Linked DNA regions of Homo sapiens: region 2 is linked to region 1. Evidence: fine-mapped expression QTL. A gene starts in region 1. The other region holds a variant in brackets. All regions are shown on one strand. Distances are between the middles of the regions.

Region 1 (8,529 bases):
GCAAAATCTGTCTTAAAGAAAATGGTCAGTCTTTCCTTTCTTCTAAACATCTCTGATTTTTTCATCTTGTTTCCTGACTATTCACAGACAGCAACAATAACAGATTCTGGAAAGAAGGATTTGTAGTAAGTATTACAAAATCTTGTCTTTAAAATGTGGTCCTCAGCCCAACAATATGAGCATCACCTGAGAGCCTGTCAGAAATGCAGAATCTCAGGTCCCTTCCCAGAAGTCCGGAATCAGAATCCTCATTTTAACAAGACACCCAAGTCATTCCTCCCCACATTACAGTCTGAGATGATGCTCTCCTCTATTAAAAAGTTTTTTTAGGCTGGGCAATGTGGCTCATGCCTATAATCTCAACACTTTGGGAGGCTGAGGCAGGTAGATCACCTGAGGTCACAAGTTTGAGACCAGTCTGGCCAACATGGCAAAACCTGTTTCTCTACTAAAAATAGAAAAAAAATTAGCCAGGCATGGTGGCAGGTGCCTGTAATCCCAGCTACTTAGGAGGCTGAGGCAGGAAAATCACTTAAACCCAGGAGTTTGAGACTAGCCTGGGCAATACAGTGAGATCATGGCTCCATTTAATTTAAAAGAAAAAAATTGTTTTGGAAAAAAAAATGATGATGCTCTGGAACATGGATTGGCACACTACAAACTACCTGTTTTACAAAGAGTTTTGTTAAAACATAGCCCAAATCGGGCCAGGTGTGGTGGCTCATGCCTGTAATCCCAGCATTTTTGGGAGGCTGAGGCGGGAGGATCACGAGGTCAAGAGATCGAGACCATTCTGGCCAACATGGTGAAACCCCATCTCTACTAAAAATACAAAAATTAGCTGGTAGTGGTGGCATGCGCCTGTAGTCCCAGCTACTCAAGAGGCTGAGGCAGGAGAATCGCTTGACCCAGGAGGCGGAGGTTGCAGTGAGCCAAGACCATGCCATTGCACTCCAGCCTGGCAAGAGAGCGAGACACCGTCCAAAAAAAAAAAAAAAAAAAAAGAAACACAAAAACAAAAAACTACAGCCAAACTCATTTGTTTACTTTTGCACTAGAATGGCAGAGTTGAGTAGTTGTACCAGAGACCCTATGGTTTGTGAAGACTAAAATGTTTACTATCGGTGCCGTGTAAAAAAAAAAGTTTGCTGAGTCTTGCTCTAGGATAACCAGCAGAAAATCAATTCATCTATGGTTTGTACTTATATACTGAGCCAAAGCTTTGAAGGGTTTGCAAGATCAACATAAGAGCTAAATCTACTGATTGTCTATTACATGTCAAATTATCTTTGTACAGTATCTAAGTTAGTCCTCACTGAGCCTGGAAAGAGAGCTATTTATCTTATTTCACTCAGGAGGAAAGTGAAGTTCCCAAGAGTTCACTAGGTAGCTTGCAGTCATGTGGCAAATAACTACTGAGTATGGAATATGAACCTAGGCTTTCTTCGCTCCAGGGAAATCTTGCTGGTTCTGGAAAAGCAAAGTACACCGCCAGCCCTCATAACCCTGACTCTCAGCAGAAGCTCTGAAACTAGAAACACATTTTTAGGGAGCACAGTTTTTTGCTGCCCAAGGACCTAAAGTCAACAGATACCTGAAACTTTCTGTCGCTGACTACAGGGAGTAGGTCCCATCCCCCACAGTATAAAGGTCAGAAGCCAGAAACCAGCTTCTGGGTATAAACATTACAGTTCAGTGCTCTCCTCCTCCACCTCTGAGGGGCAAAAATAAATTTGAGGGTGATGGAAAATCTATTTCATGGACAGAGTAATCACTTCTTTATAGGAGAATCTCAAGATTGGCTCTACCACCAGATGCATAACTGGGTAGTTCTGGTTCCTCATGGCCTCTGGGGTCTTTTATAAAGACTTATAAAATGGGTAGATTTTAAAAGCCAGTAGGTTTAAAGTAGGTTTTTAAAGTCAGTAAGTGGGATGATTCTTTTTTTTTTTTTTTTTTTTTGAGACTGAGTCTCACAGTGTCACCCAGGCTGCAGTGCAGTGGCACGATCTCAGCTCACTGCAACCTCCGCCTCCTGGGTTCAAGCGATTCTCCTGCCTCAGACTCCCGAGTAGCTGGGACTACAGGCGTCCGCCACCATGCCCGGCTAATTTTTTTGTATATTTAGTAGAGACGGGGTTTCACCATGTTGGCCAGGCTGGTCTCAAAGTCCTGACTTTGTGATCTGCCTGCCTTAGCCTCCCAAAGTGCTGGGATTACAGGCATTACCCGCCGCACCTGGCCTATTATTATCCCTTCTTGACAGATGAGGAAACTGAGATTTAGGGGTTAGTTCACACACTCACGGTGATTCGGCTGAGTAGGGCCTGAATTGAACATAGTCAGCCTCTAAAACCTCAATGCTTAACCACTGAGATCTTGTTAAAATGGGATTGAAAGCTGCCTGCCTATAGTTTTCTCTTCTCTTCTCTTCTTTCTTTCTTTCTTTTCTTTCTCTCTCCTTCCTTCCTTTTTTTTTTTTCTTTTGAGACAGGGTTTCACTTTCACTCTGTCACCCAAGCTGGAATGCAGTGGCACGATCACGGCTCACTGCAGCCTCAACCTCCCAGGCTCCAGCAATCCTCCCACTTCAGCCTCCCAAGTAGCTGGGACTATAGGCACGGGCCACCACGTCTGGCTAATTTTTTGTATTTTTTGTAGAGCCAGGGTTTCATCATGTTGCCAAAGTTGGTCTCAAGCTCCTGCATTAAAGTGATCTGCCCGCCTGGGCCTCCCAAAGTGCTGGGATTACAGGCGTGAGCCACCATGCCCGGCCTCACCTGCCTATAGCTCTAGCCCACCTGTCCTACGTCTACACAGGAGCTACCATTTCTTGGGGACTAGATATATCAGTGGCTGTGTGACATATTTTACTGGCATTTTTCCAGTTAATACTAACAACAGTCCTGTGAGGTCAAAGTTTTTGTCCCTATCTTACAGATGAGGAAATCAAGGCAGTGAGATAAAGCAACTTGCCTGAGGTCACCCAGTTGGCAAGCTGGGGCACAGATTTTCAGAGGTTTCTGGGATTCCAAACCCTGTGCTCTCGGGCATTTGTCTGAGAAAACTCTCAGGTAACACACTCTTCCCCTTCCAGTATGTGTATATAGATATATTTTTTTCTTCCCTTTCCAGTTTTGAGGAAATCCCTTGACTAACACCCTCTTTCCTTCAGCTGTTATCTTGTGGTACATGGTGCCAAGTGCCCTCCTCATTCCCATCATCTGCTCCAGAGGGTTTTTTGTCAAAATCCCCAGAAGATACAGAATACAGTGATGATCAAGCTAGCCTTTTCCTCATTGCCACCCCCCACAAAAAATCCTGGTGGCCTTCACTCCCCAAGCCCCAGGGCAATTAATACTGTCTTCTACCATTGCCACAGGCTGACTTGCCCAACTGGTAGGGCTGATTCTATCAGATTCCTTATCCATACTTTGTTGTTGGAGGATTTGTCTCAAGGCACCTGGCAAGACCCACAGGAAATGACACCTGAGATGTCAGTGGCTCTGCCCAGGAGGCCTCAGGCTCACCTGCCAGCTCCCTAAAGACAGGATGCAAAGACACATGGCAACTGTGGGATACCTCTGGGTATCCACCTGGCCCAGAGCCATGAATTAGGCACCCTGAAGAAAATGCTAAACACCACATGACCCTAACCAAGATGCAACTGAGATCAGAGCATCTTCCCAAGCCGGTGTGACTGCTTTTGCCTGGCACCTCCCATGTGGTCAGGCCTGGAGAGATGGGGAGCCTAAGGATAAGGAGCTGAATCCTGGCTCTGCCAACTTCAACACGACCTGGAATAAGTTACTGGGCTTTTTATATTTTTATCTGCCAAAGGCCTCAATTCTTTATATAAAAAACGAGGCCACGAGCAACAATATATGTGATAAGACTGAGTGATCTGCAAAGGCAGGCTAAGACTGACTTCCCAGACACAGCCACTGAGCAACTGGTGACTGTGCGGGGGGGTTCCTGAACCTCTCTGGGGCTCATGGGTTCAGGCTGAGAAAGTGTCTCCATTCAGTGTCGCCCAGAGTTGATCTGAAAAGTAGGCCAGAGTGGGCAGGGAAATTAAGAAAAGCATGAACCTCTGAAAACCTGCCCGGTCCGTGAGGAAATAACCGGGTCCACTCCCTTGTCCAGAGCCTCCCCACCGCCCTCCTTCAGGCCAGCTCCGCGGGCAGGGCAGCCAGGAGGAAGGCTCAGGGACTAGGCGTCTCAGTTCCCGCTGGCCACCAACTCCCCCATCCCCTGCCCCCTCTCTGGTTCTGTTTCTCTGTGTACGCAGGGAAGGTGTGGGCTTGTCGCCCCTGGAGGCCTTCCAGCTCCGACGTTTTGAAGCCTGGCTCCCAGATTAAACTCCCTTCGGATCCCATTTTCTGAAGGGTCGCAAAAGCTGGGGGCTGGGTGGGGTAAGCTAGGGGACAACAGCGGCTCCGGCCGCCGCCTGAGCCCTTCAAGATCAGCATCCGGTCAAGCGGCTGTGCAGCCGAGAAGCAACCCGGGACTGCAAGTCTGCGTGGCGGGGACGGCGCAACCACTCACCGGCATGACTGAGGCAGCGGCGGTGTGGCGGCGGTGTGGCGGCGGTGTCAGCAGCGCCTCTCTGGATTCGGAGGGCGGGTTCGGCTGCGCTTCCGAGAGTGCGCACTAGAGGCCTGGTCCCGGAGGCCCCTCCCACTCCGGGCCCGGCCGCGAGGGAGGCTCCGCCCCCTCCAGTCCTGATCCCTGCCGGCCGCGCCGCCTCCTTTCTGCGGGCCGGGCCCGTGGTCACCCGGCCTGGACGGAGAGAGGAGGTGAGAGGGGCGCTGCGTTGGCCTCCATCGACTGTCGGCCTTTTTCAGAACGCCTACTTCGGGTCAAGCTTGTGTTAGGGAATGCCAGAGAAGGGCACCGCCTTGAACAGGACATCATCCATCCATCCCTAAAAGGACAGTTTCACTCATTTATTCACCGAGTCAATTTTTATTAAGCGCCAGCCAACGAGGACGCAGCGGTGGAAGAGCAGCAGCAGGAGGCTGCGAAGGACGCAGGCAGTGATAGTGCAGGGTTAGCAGAGCTGTTGTGACAGAGGAGGAAGGGCCCTGACTGCAGTGGGGTGGGGGCGGTTGTGGAAGAGAGGCGGCCTGGGGAGAAGGCAATAATCTGGACCTCGGTTAGCCTTTATCGCCCTGTTACAGGCTTTGTCTCTAAATACAGTCGCATTGGGGGTTAGGGTATCAACATAGGAATTTGCGGGGACACAATTCATGTCCATGTCAGAGTTCAGTCCCTAGCAGAGCCATACTGACTAGAGTTTTAATCTCAGCCCTATCATTTATTAGCCATGTGACCCTGGGCAGATGAACTTACCTCTCTAAGCCTCAATATCCTCACGTATAAGATGGGGACAGTTAAGGTCACTATACAATTTTTTATCTGAACCTTTTGCTAGAGAAAGGAGATGCTATTAATAATTTTGCCAGGACAACAGGCAAACACCATGACTGTTTCAGGCAAACAACGACACATGGTTCCCTCCAAGAAACCTACTTTGCAGTATTGTTGGAATACATGTAATGTGTGCAAACTTCTTAATACATTGCTTGGCACATGGTAGGCACCAAAAATATATATAAGTATTCTCTAATTGCTAGGCCCTCTGTTGGCCTCCCTGGCACTGGGTCTTCCGCTGCTCACAAAATACCCCTTAACCATTCATCCCCTACCCAACCTGCCAGGAATTCCCTAAAGATGGAAGGGAAGGGGGCGAGGAGGAGAGGGAAAGAGGGTACTGGCACATTAGGTCCTGTACGGGCAAGGCTTAGCATCTTGGTAGTCCTGGGTACAACTGTGCCCTGGGGCTAGGGATAGCTAGATTGCCATGAGGGAAGGCGGAGAGTGGACATGAGGGAAGGAAATCCTTCCCAAAGCAACAGTACACAGGGCGAACCACCCACGGCATGTTTTAGAGAATTAGGGGTATGGGTTGGGGGGATGGCTAAGCCTAGAGACAGCAATTTAAAGAGAAGACAGCTTTATAAAGATCTGTTAAAGATCACAAATAAAGACCTATTAAAGAGGAGAAGAAAATATGCCAGACTGTAGTTCCTGCATAAATATATACATACATTCCGTGTATTTACATTAAAATAAGCATGAAATGAACCACAGCCAATGTTACTAGAAGTTATCTTGGATAAGTGTAGGATTTGCAGGTGGAATCCCAATGTACCTACTGTTTAATTTTCAAATAACACAAAGTAGCGTACAGTGAAAAGTAGGTCTTCCTCCTACCCTGACCTCTCCTTCTTAAACAAAAGGCATAGTATACACAGTTTTGCATCCTGCTTTTCTCACTTTATAAAATATCTTAGAGATTATTCCTGGGCCAGATGCAGTGGCTCATACCTGTAATCGCATTGCTTTGAGAGGCCTAAGTGGGAGGATCACTTGAGCCCAGGAGTTTGAGACCAGACTAAGAAACATGGTGAAACCCTGGCTCTACAAAAAATACAAAAATTAGCCGGGTGTGGTGGCATATGCCTGTGGTCCCAGCTACTCAGGAGACTGAGGTGGGAGCATCACTTGAGCTCAGGAGGTCAAGGCTGCATTGAGCCATAAGTACACCACTGCACTCCAGCCTGGGTGACAGAATATGACCCTGTATTTAAAAAAAAAAAAAAAAAAAGATTATTCCTTAATAGTACATATCAACCCTTTTCTTTCTTAGCTTTTTTTTTTTTTTTCCCCGAGATGGAGTCTTGCTCTGTCGCCCAGGCTGGAGTGCAGTGACGTGATCTTGGCTCACTGCAACGTCCGCCTCCTGGGTTCAAGCAACTCTCCTGCCTCAGCCTCCCAAGTAGCTGGGATTATAGGCGCCCACCACCATGCCCGGCTAATTTTTGTATTTTTAGTATTTTTAGTAGAGACAGAGTTTCACCATGTTGGCCAGGCTGGTCTCGAATTCCTGACCTCGTGATCTGCCCACTTTGGCCTCCCAAAGTGCTGGGATTACAGGCAATGAGCCATCACTAAGCCAGTGAGCCTGGGAAATGGGCATATAGAATCCCTGCTTTCTGGCTGAAAGTGTTGTTGCAAGGATAGGAATGTGCACACTGTAGGCATGTATAGATGGTGGGTTCTTCCTGGTGTAATCTACTTCTAGACCCAGCCTCCTGGGATGACCCTTTCTTTGACAGATGCTGAGGAGTTTAATTCTTTGCAAAGAAAGGTTTTGTAGCTGCTGCCTGCTCCCCGATATCCCCACCGCAGGAAACCAAGTGTCTGTTTTTTGTATCATAACACAGGTATACACCACTTGCCTCACTGCTTTATCCACCAACGGACCCTTTATCTGGGACCAAAGATTCTGAGCTGAAAGGGCCCTCAGAGCAGCCAAGGCATGCATGAGAAGAGAAGGGCTATGAAGTGGAAGCTGAGGGAGCGTGGACTGCAGGCTTGGGAGAGGGAGCATGGTGTCCTGCAGAGCCACATGCTGGCAGAACTGGGTCTACAGACACATTTTATTCAGTCCCTAAAGTATTCAAAATATTTTTTGATTAGTTGACAACAGTTAAGAACTCTGAGTATGCTTGTACAACATTGTGAATATATTTAATGCCACTGAATTATACACTTAAAAATGGTTAGAAAGAGGAATTTTATGTTCTGTATGTTTTACCACAATTAAAAATAGGGCATGGTGGCTCATGCTTGTAATCCCAACACTTTAGGAGTCCCAGGCAGGAGAATTGCTTCAAGTCCAGCCTGGCAATATAGCGAGATTTTGTCTCTACAAAAAATTTAAAAATTAGTTGGACATGGTGTTGTGCACCTGTAGTCCCAGCTACTTGGGAGGCGGAGGTGGGAAGATCACTTGAGCCCAGGAGGTCAAGGCTGCACTGAGCCGTGATCGTGCCACCACACTCCAGCCTGTGTGACAGAGCAAGACCCTGTCTCAAAATAAAAATAAATAAATAAATTTATTTATTTCTAGACTGACATGTAAAATTAGTTGCTTTCTTATTACAAGACTAGGAAAAGCATTTTTAAAAATAAAAATTCTAAATAGTTTTTAATTTTTATTTTTTGAGACAGGGTCTTGCTGTGTCACCTAGGCTGGAGTGCAGTAGCGTGAACATGGCACACTGCAGCTGTGACCTCCTGGGCTCAAGGGATCCCCTGACCTCAGCCTCCTGAGTAGCTGGGACCACAGGTGCATGTCCCCACACCCAGCTATTTTTTTGTATGTTTTTGTAGAGATGGGGTCTTGGCATGTTGATCAGGTTGCTCTCATAAGCAATCCTCCTGCCTCGGCCTCTCAAAGTGCTGGGATTACAGGCGTGAACCACCGCACCTGGCCTAAATAAGTTTTTAAAAAGGGTGATGGGCGGGTGCAGTGGCTCACGCCTGTAATCCCAGCACTTTGGGAGGCAGAGGCAGGCAGATTACTTGAGGTCAGGAGTTCAAGACCAACCTGGCCAACATGGCGAAACCCCGTCTCTACTAAAAGTACAAAAATTAGCTGGGCATTGTGGTGGGTGC
Region 2 (8,000 bases), 150 kb after region 1:
GTTGATTCCCTTGAATCCTCTAAGACAGAGTCAGAGCTGCAGCTATGCTCAGTGGGGTGGAACTTCTTTGTTTCACTCAGCAGGTTCCAAAGTCTTGGGCAAGAAGTGAGTAGTAGAGTCGTAGAATTACGAGACCTAGTCATCCTGTGCATTAAAAAAGACATTCATTGATCACCTGCTATAAATTAATAAATGTATATTATACCCCTGCAAGACTATCATCTCCATTTTATAGATAAGAAAACTGACTCAGAGATTAACTGAGAATAGCAAAGGCTACTACCAATGACCAAATGCTTTCTAGGTGCCATCCACAGTTAAGAACTGTTCCATACAGGCTTTCTAATCTTCCCAACAACTTTATGAAACATCAAGCATTTTCTTTTCTATTTTTCAGATGAGAAAACTGAGACTTGGGGAGATTGACTGACTTAATCAAGGTGACTTAGTGGCAGAGCTGATACATAAATCTAATCGAGGTGAAATTTTGGCGCAAGTTTTGGAGCAGCTGTTCAAATCTGCTAAAACAGCTCACTCAATTCAAATATGCATGGTTTTAAGTTTCTACTCTTCTGTGGTTTAGTATAAGCTTCTAGAAGGAATATTTACTTAGGAGAATTCAGGAAAAGTATCATTGACACCTTGTGGGACTTAACGAGATGGAAGGAAGAGTGATGGATGATGAAGAAACAACAAGGCTCTGTGGCCAATGCCCCTTTACCCTTTCAGGATAAAGGAGCTCTAGGGTCGTTGCTGAGGTTTTCTTCTCTTCTTGGGATTTCTGTCCTTTTTACCCTGTACCTTCAAGATCCTCCAGCAGGTCACCCCTTTCTAACACACAGGGGGACCAAACGGGATCCTGAGTCCCACTGCTTTCTGCTGCTTGTTGCGTGTCTCAGAGGCAAAGAGAAGCAACCTTGGAAATGCGACAAGCTGTGGATGTGGAGTCAGAGATTCTGGGTTTGATTTCTATCTGTTGCAATTCTTCCTTGTATGATCTTGGGCAAGTCCTTTACTACACGTAACCACCAGCTTCCTCATCCATAGCGTGTAGATAGCTCCTGCTCTAACTTTTAAATTACTATTTAAAATAATGTGGAAGAAAGCATAAGAACTTGTTTTTTGGCTGAAAAAGGGCATGCTCCAGGGCTAAGCACATGGACTCTGGCCTCAAATCAGGCTCTGGCTTTTGCTAGCTGTGCAGCCTTGGACAAGTTACTTATTCTGTCTAAATCTTTGTTTCTGCATCTGTAAAATGAGGGTGATAGTAGTTGTTGGTCGTAAGCTTGTTGTAAGGAATAAGCATTCTTTTACAGTGCTCACTTTGGTGTGTGGCACAGTGTAAATGTTCAATACAATTTTTATTGATTCAAAGAGAGTTGGCAGATCTAGGCTTTGTGATGGGGGATGAATATATGAACTTCCAGAAGCTTTTTGTGCTTTATATTGGAATCTAGAAGGGCCACCCACTCTGACCCTAGAAGAGTACCACAGCAATCTCAGGTAGTTCTACTATGCTCTTAGTAATTTATCTGTTATGTAGTAAATTAATAGTATTACTTTGGCATTTCAGTCAATAGGATTAAGATGATCTGATGGTAACAGAGCAGTAATTGCTGCTGCACATATGGAAACTGTCCAGTGGCAAAAACTATTTTTTCACAAGCTGGCTGGTTGCCCTCAGACCAGATTCTTTCAACTCTTAAAAAAATAACATTTTCCTCTGATGATTAAAGCAAAAAATGCACATTGGGAAAATACAATGAGGTTCAAGGAAAAAAATGAAAACCCACCTAGAAAACCCATTATCTAGATATCTACTGTTAACATATTGCTAAATTTCTTCCAGGTTTTTTTCCTCTACAGATCATAATGAGTGTTGTTTCCTCTTTATTTTTGACTGAAGATTCTAAATGAGCATTTTCTATTGCTATTAAATCTTTAGAAACACAATTTTAAATGACTGCATATGCCAGTGTGTGGCTGGCATATGCAGTCATTTAAAATTAGTATTTATTTTGCTCTCCCACAATTGATAGGCATTTATATTATTTTCAATTTTTAGCTATTATAAATTATGCTGGAAAAACCCCCTTGGTCACAAACCTCTGTTCATGTCCTAGAAGCAAAATTGCTGAGTCAAAGCTAGAAATATTTCTGAGGCAGAAAGGCCATAGCAGAGTAAAGGAGCCCCTTCCAACCCCCCAGGACCAGCAACTTGGCTGTCATTGAAAATTAATTCTTCATAAGGCAGTGTGCTAGGGGCAAGGGCTGAAGTCAACGGTGAGTAAGTAAAAGTTGAAAAGGAGAGAGGTGACTGCTTCCACCTTTTCCCTTTTCCTCCACTGACTCACATTGCCCATGAAATTGTAGACATTGGAACGTGCTGGAGGGGAGAAAGCGAGCTCTTAGTGACAGATTGTTCAGAAGCCCAACATTGCTTCGTGCTTTGCATTTCCTTTTCTGTTAAATTGCCCTGCATATGTCTTCTGCCTGTGTCATATTCATTTTTTTAAATCCCTGAAAGTACTTACATTTTGCAAGCATTCCCTAAATGCTCGAAATGGGGGGTGGGATAACATGGTGGACTCAAATCTGATTCTGCCGTTTATTAGCGGGTTCTGATTTATTAGCTGTGTGATCTTAGGCAAGTCACTTAACACTTTCAATTTGTTTCCTTATCAGTAAAATAAGGGTAATAATAGGGATACTTTCTATAATTGTTTGGCTAAGTAAGAAAATACATATCAAGTGAGAACTGCAGTGCCAGGCACAGAGAAACTACTGAGTATGTTAGCAATTATTACAAATAAAAATAAGGTTCAAATAATCTGCACTAAAATCTTATGCCAGCCTAAGTTTAACCTAATAATTCTTAAGAACTTAGAAAAATCCGAAGACTGAAAGAGTCAGGAATGCAGGAAATACCGGATGTGGGCTGTACTTCACATCTTGGCTAATTTATTATATTTAGTTGTAGGTCCTGCATTTTAAGAGGGACATTAACAGGCTGGAGCAGGTCCAAAAGGGAACAATTGGGCTGGTAAACAAACTTGAAATTGACCTGTAAGGAATAATTAAAGACTCTGTGGGTGTTTGGCTCAGAGAAGTCTTAGGCAGAAGGGATCGGTCCATTGGGCTGTTGGGGGAAGAGGGACCCAACTTAATAAAATAATTTTTTTGAGTATTTTTATTTTCCAGACATCGAGCTTTGCAAATATTATTTATTTTTTCTTCTCCAAAACACTACATGAGGTATGTATTTGTGTATCTATTGTACAGATGAAGTAACAGGCACAGAGGCAGAAGTGACTTGGTTGAGAGTTAACGTGGTTAATAGGTGGAATGGTAGGAATGGAGCCAGGTCTTTCTAATTTTATAGTTTGAGTACCTTCTACAGCCCACTGACTTGTTCCAAGTGACTAGGGAAGACCTGTCGGACTTTTAAAGAGCAAGATGGCTGCCTGATACATGTGAGGAAAGAATATTTAGACCATTAGAGCCATCCAACAATGGAAGAAGCTGCCTGAGTAGATGATGAGTTTCTTGTCACTGGAAGTATTCAAGGAGAGGCTGAACTTCTCTGCTCAGTAGCATGCTGTAAGGATGACAGCTGAGGAGTGGGCTGGAACTGTGACTTTATTACTTACTTGGGTGTTCTGGAAAGTTGCTTAACTTCTCTGAGCCTGTTTCTTCATCTATAAACTAAGAATATGGCCTAATTTTAGAAGACTTACAAAAAAAAATACAGATAAATTGTTTAGCCAAGAAGCTGGTATACAGAAGTTGCTCTTTATATATTAAGCGAAAAATTATCTATAATCTTTCTATTTGTATCTGTGGCTCTCATTTATTTGGCGACACTGTCTACTCACTTCTTCACTGGGAAAAATTTTAGACTTGGAGAGGTCACCTCCTAGGTGAGTATTTTACTTCACTTCTGCAGTGGCAGGTACATGCTAATTTCTGTCCCCTTAGGCAAATGACAGGTTGGACTTTAAAACAGGGGCAGTGGAATAAACAAAAGGAAGAATATTCAAACTGAAATGTTAAGCAATAGAATAGACATTATTGGGAGAAAGATTAGAACCACACAGCTAATAAATCATGTCACCCTATGGATCAAATATCAGATGGGTTTGAGGAGCCCACTATATGCCCAGCACTGTGCCATATGCATTAGAGTTCAATCAATCGGAGGCACTGTCTTTGTCTACAAAAGTCTCAAGGCCTGGGATGGCCCAGACAGTTGTGAAAAGATTAGCTGATAGGACTGAGTATTATTCTGTGCTAAATCTTTTGGTTTGGATTGCAGCCCCTGGGCAATTAGGGAAGGGATGCTCAGAGGCAAGAGATGGAGAAGATGACCTTGGAAGGTCTCTTTCTTGCCTGGGATTTTCTCCTTTTGATGATGCCCAGGATTCTTTCTAGCAGGCACAATGCTGTAATGTTGCAGTTGTGGCTCCCTTGGGCACATTCTCTAGTCATTTCCCCAGGACTTTCCCCATAGCCTGGGAATATGCTAATAATTGTTGTCCATAATCTGGCCTGGAGGAGGAAGATGTGGAT[G/A]AGGAAAAGGAGGAAGAGGTGAGGAAGAGGAGGAAGGGCCGCCCTTCTGAGGGCTCTCTCAGCAGCCTTCCTTCCTGGGCTTTGAGAACAAGGCAGCATCCTGTCTCCTCCCAGGTATCCATTCAGGCCCCTGTTCTGTAGACATCAGTCTAGGCTCCTACCAACATCAGCCATGGGTCCCACCAGCAGGAAACATGGAGTTAGTTGCATGAAGAGAAAGCTTTTATTGTTGGAATTCTTGATGTGAGGATCCTTCCTTTTCTTTCAACAAGATAAGCAGATTCCAACTGCTTTGGAAAATATCTTCCTTTCTCTATCCTCTTGTTTCTTCCTCCTGTCATCATTCCTCCTTAACCTTTGCTTCTTCCCTCCTACATTCTTTTTCCCTTCTGGTTTCTCTACCTTATTCCTTTTCCTTCATTTGTTTCTGAATCCTAGGATGATGAAGTTGAGGGAGGTCTTAGAAGTCCTCTAGTACAGTGTACTCATTCATTTTACAGATGAGAAGAATGCATTTCCAAGACAGAAAGAGACTCACAGAATGAGTCCTTGGTGGAACCCAGAGTAGACCTGAGTTGAGTGCTCTTCCCTCTTTATTACTCTGCTTATCTCCACATTTCTCTCCCCTTTCTTGTTTTTTTTTTAAATTGTTCATTTTATTTCTTGCTCAATACTCTTTCTTCTCGTTTGTTGCTTCTTAATCCCATAATGTTAAATGAAAACAAAATCAGGATTTTGGGTAGAAGAACTGAAAGGGAAGTGTGTTGTCAAGTTCTTCCCATTGTGGCTGTGATTTGGGGTGAGCCCCTCAATTTTCCTCCTCAGAGTCTCTATCTACTTTCTCCATCCTACCCCGCCATGTCTTTGGAGGGGTTTGTCCACTGTCTTTCTCCATATGAAGACTTTGAACTTGAATTGCCAAGGTGCCCTAAAGGGGTCCTAGGTTGGTAAGATCACTGCCTTAGTCCCTTCATTTACAAACTGGAGATGATCATAGTATTTTCCTCACAGGGTAGCTATAAAGATGAAATAGTTAATACATATCAAGTTTTTTGAAAAGTTTCTGGCATATAGTAGGTTCTAAATATATGTTATTCATATTCGCTGGTATTATTAATTATAAATATTATTTAGAGGGATTTCTGTCCATAAGGAGAAGGGTCGAGAGTCACAGATGTCATTCTAACATAAGGAGAGAAAAGAAAACTATGAATATAGCTCAAATAGAGACTCAGCAAATTACACAAAGGGTGACCTGATCTCAGCTGTGCTCTGCTTCCTGAATGTGTGCACTTTTTACCCAAAGGCACCATCTTTTCTCCAACCATTTGAATTCAAATTGCAGCCCATGGTCATGACTTACCCTGAGAAGAAGCTGTTTGGAAGTTAAGAGTAAAGTTAGGCCTTGCTCAGAACTGACACAGTTTAAGAAGTCCTTCTGATACTTTCCATTTTCTCCCAGGTAGTGTTTAAGATGTGATGACAGAGTGCTGTATTCTCCAAACCAAAATCACTTGCATGTCATATAATAAGTTTTGCCCAATTTATGTACTGTTATTTAATTTATTTTTAATTTGATTTTTAGTCTTAAATGTTATCAGTATCATAATGGAATTGGTAAGTTCTGGTCCCTAGTAAAATAAAATAAGAGAAAATTATCCTGTACCATTATAGTGTATCTTGTAGACTATTGGTGTAACTCTGATTTGATTTTAGGGAAAGTTGTCATGGTAATAAGAGACTTGGAATTCTCAGTTCTTGTCTGGGCTGGACATTAATTTACTGTTGACTTTGGACAAGTCCCTTTCCCTCTGGCCACAGTTCCTCCCTGGGAACTGAAACAACTGGGACATGTAATTCTTTCCATCTCTAACTTTTTTTTTTTGTCATGAGTAGGAGTATTTTATGAAATTGCACAGTGAATTGGGTAGGGCTCCAGTCACCCTGATGAGAGTATGTACCATCCATCACGTTGTTCTGAGCACCCAATTTTATAATATAACTCTAGCCTTCCATTTTCCAGTGACATTTTGCTTCCAGCACAATGACTTCTGTGGGAAAAGCAACTTCCATTTGTTCAGAAAATTCTCCTAAATACACGAAATAGTTTCAGCTTCTAGGCTGATTTTTACTTAGAGAAAACAATCAAGACGGCACTGGTTTGGGTGACTCCAAATGTCTTTCTTTCCTACCTGGTACAGGTTGCCTTTTATTAAGGTGGGCTCTAAGTTTGGTTGAATGCCCATACTCTCTGGCATCCTCTTTTATTAAAAAATATATTTTCCAGCTTTTCAAAAGTAATATATATTGTTGTAAAACATTCAAGTATTACAGGAATATTTAATGCAGGAAATAAAAGTTCCCCATGGTCTCATTCTCAAGAGACAATAACAACTATAAACAGTTTTCAGTCCATTTTTGTAGAATTTTTCCCCATAAGAGAACATTAATACATATAAAAAAATAAAAATGGGATCCTACTGTACAGACTGTTTTGCTATTTGCCTTCCCTTCTCTCTCCACTCCTCGTAATCATTCATCCTGGCCATTTTTGACTTTTCTGCATGGAATGAGGTTGCCTGCCCATGATACTAACTGGCTGTGTGACTTTGGATGAATCATTTTTCCCCTCAGGGTTTCAGTTTCCTCAACTATAACAAGAAACAGTCCTCTCCAACCTGCCCATCTCCTATAATATAAGGCTTAAGGGAGATAATGGAGATGTATGAAAGTGTAGGCACCTTGAGGGTGGAGTTGATAGTAGACTGTTATGTGTTACCCTCTCTTGCTTTATTGGGTTTATAGCACTTACTAGGTCCTGCAATTCTATAGTTTCTCTATTTGTTTAGTTGTTTGTACCCCCCACTAGAAGTTAAGGTGTGTTAGAGCAGGGACCATGACTCTGTTCCTCAATGTATCTATCCCCAGAACTTAGAACAACTCCTGGTTATCGTAGGAATTAATAAATATTTTTTGGATAATGAACAAATTATTCTCTCTCAGCCAGGCTTCTAATTGATAGAAAGCCCATTGGGAGAGAATAGGGCAGAGCAGGACTGGGCTGAGCCAACATAACAGGGTGGATGCCTGGCCTACCCAGTGGCCTTGAGCTCAACATCATTCAGCTTGACTGTTCTGCAAGCCTTTTTCCTTTGTTTGCCTCACTCTCCTGATACTCTTTGCCTACCTGGTAAATTAGTCATTCTTTATGGCCCAGTTTAATTATCCTGAGTCATGTGAAATGTCTTCAATTTATACCATCTCCCACCTCCAGACAGAGTTAATCAGGCTCTTTTGTATGCTCCCACAACACTTTGCACCTATCCTACTTTAATTATAGTAATAGTGGTTTTCCTGCTTTTTACACTTGTTGCTTGCCATATGCAATGCCAACTATATGCCCTCTCCCTTTTAATACTTATGATAATCTG

The links. PIP is the estimated chance that this variant, and not a neighbour inherited with it, causes the effect.
Region 2: its variant is fine-mapped to the expression of ATOX1 in whole blood (INTERVAL, PIP above 0.99).

What each region holds. Positions count from the first base shown.
Region 1 is chr5:151,753,998-151,762,526 of GRCh38, forward strand. It overlaps ATOX1 (antioxidant 1 copper chaperone), which reads right to left and starts at 4,634. Exons shown (of 4, transcript NM_004045.4): 1 at 4,549-4,634. The coding sequence starts at 4,554. It overlaps ATOX1-AS1 (ATOX1 antisense RNA 1), which reads left to right. Exons shown (of 4, transcript XR_007059008.1): 2 at 1-125; 3 at 2,941-3,074; 4 at 4,292-4,363. RefSeq lists an enhancer at 3,673-3,802 and a silencer at 4,573-4,822.
Region 2 is chr5:151,903,454-151,911,453 of GRCh38, forward strand. All of the region lies in intron 1 of GLRA1 (glycine receptor alpha 1), which reads right to left. Among named protein-coding and RNA genes, the nearest start is that of GLRA1, 17 kb to the right of the region's middle. RefSeq lists a silencer at 2,215-2,509. The variant G/A (reference allele first, on the strand shown) is at 4,570.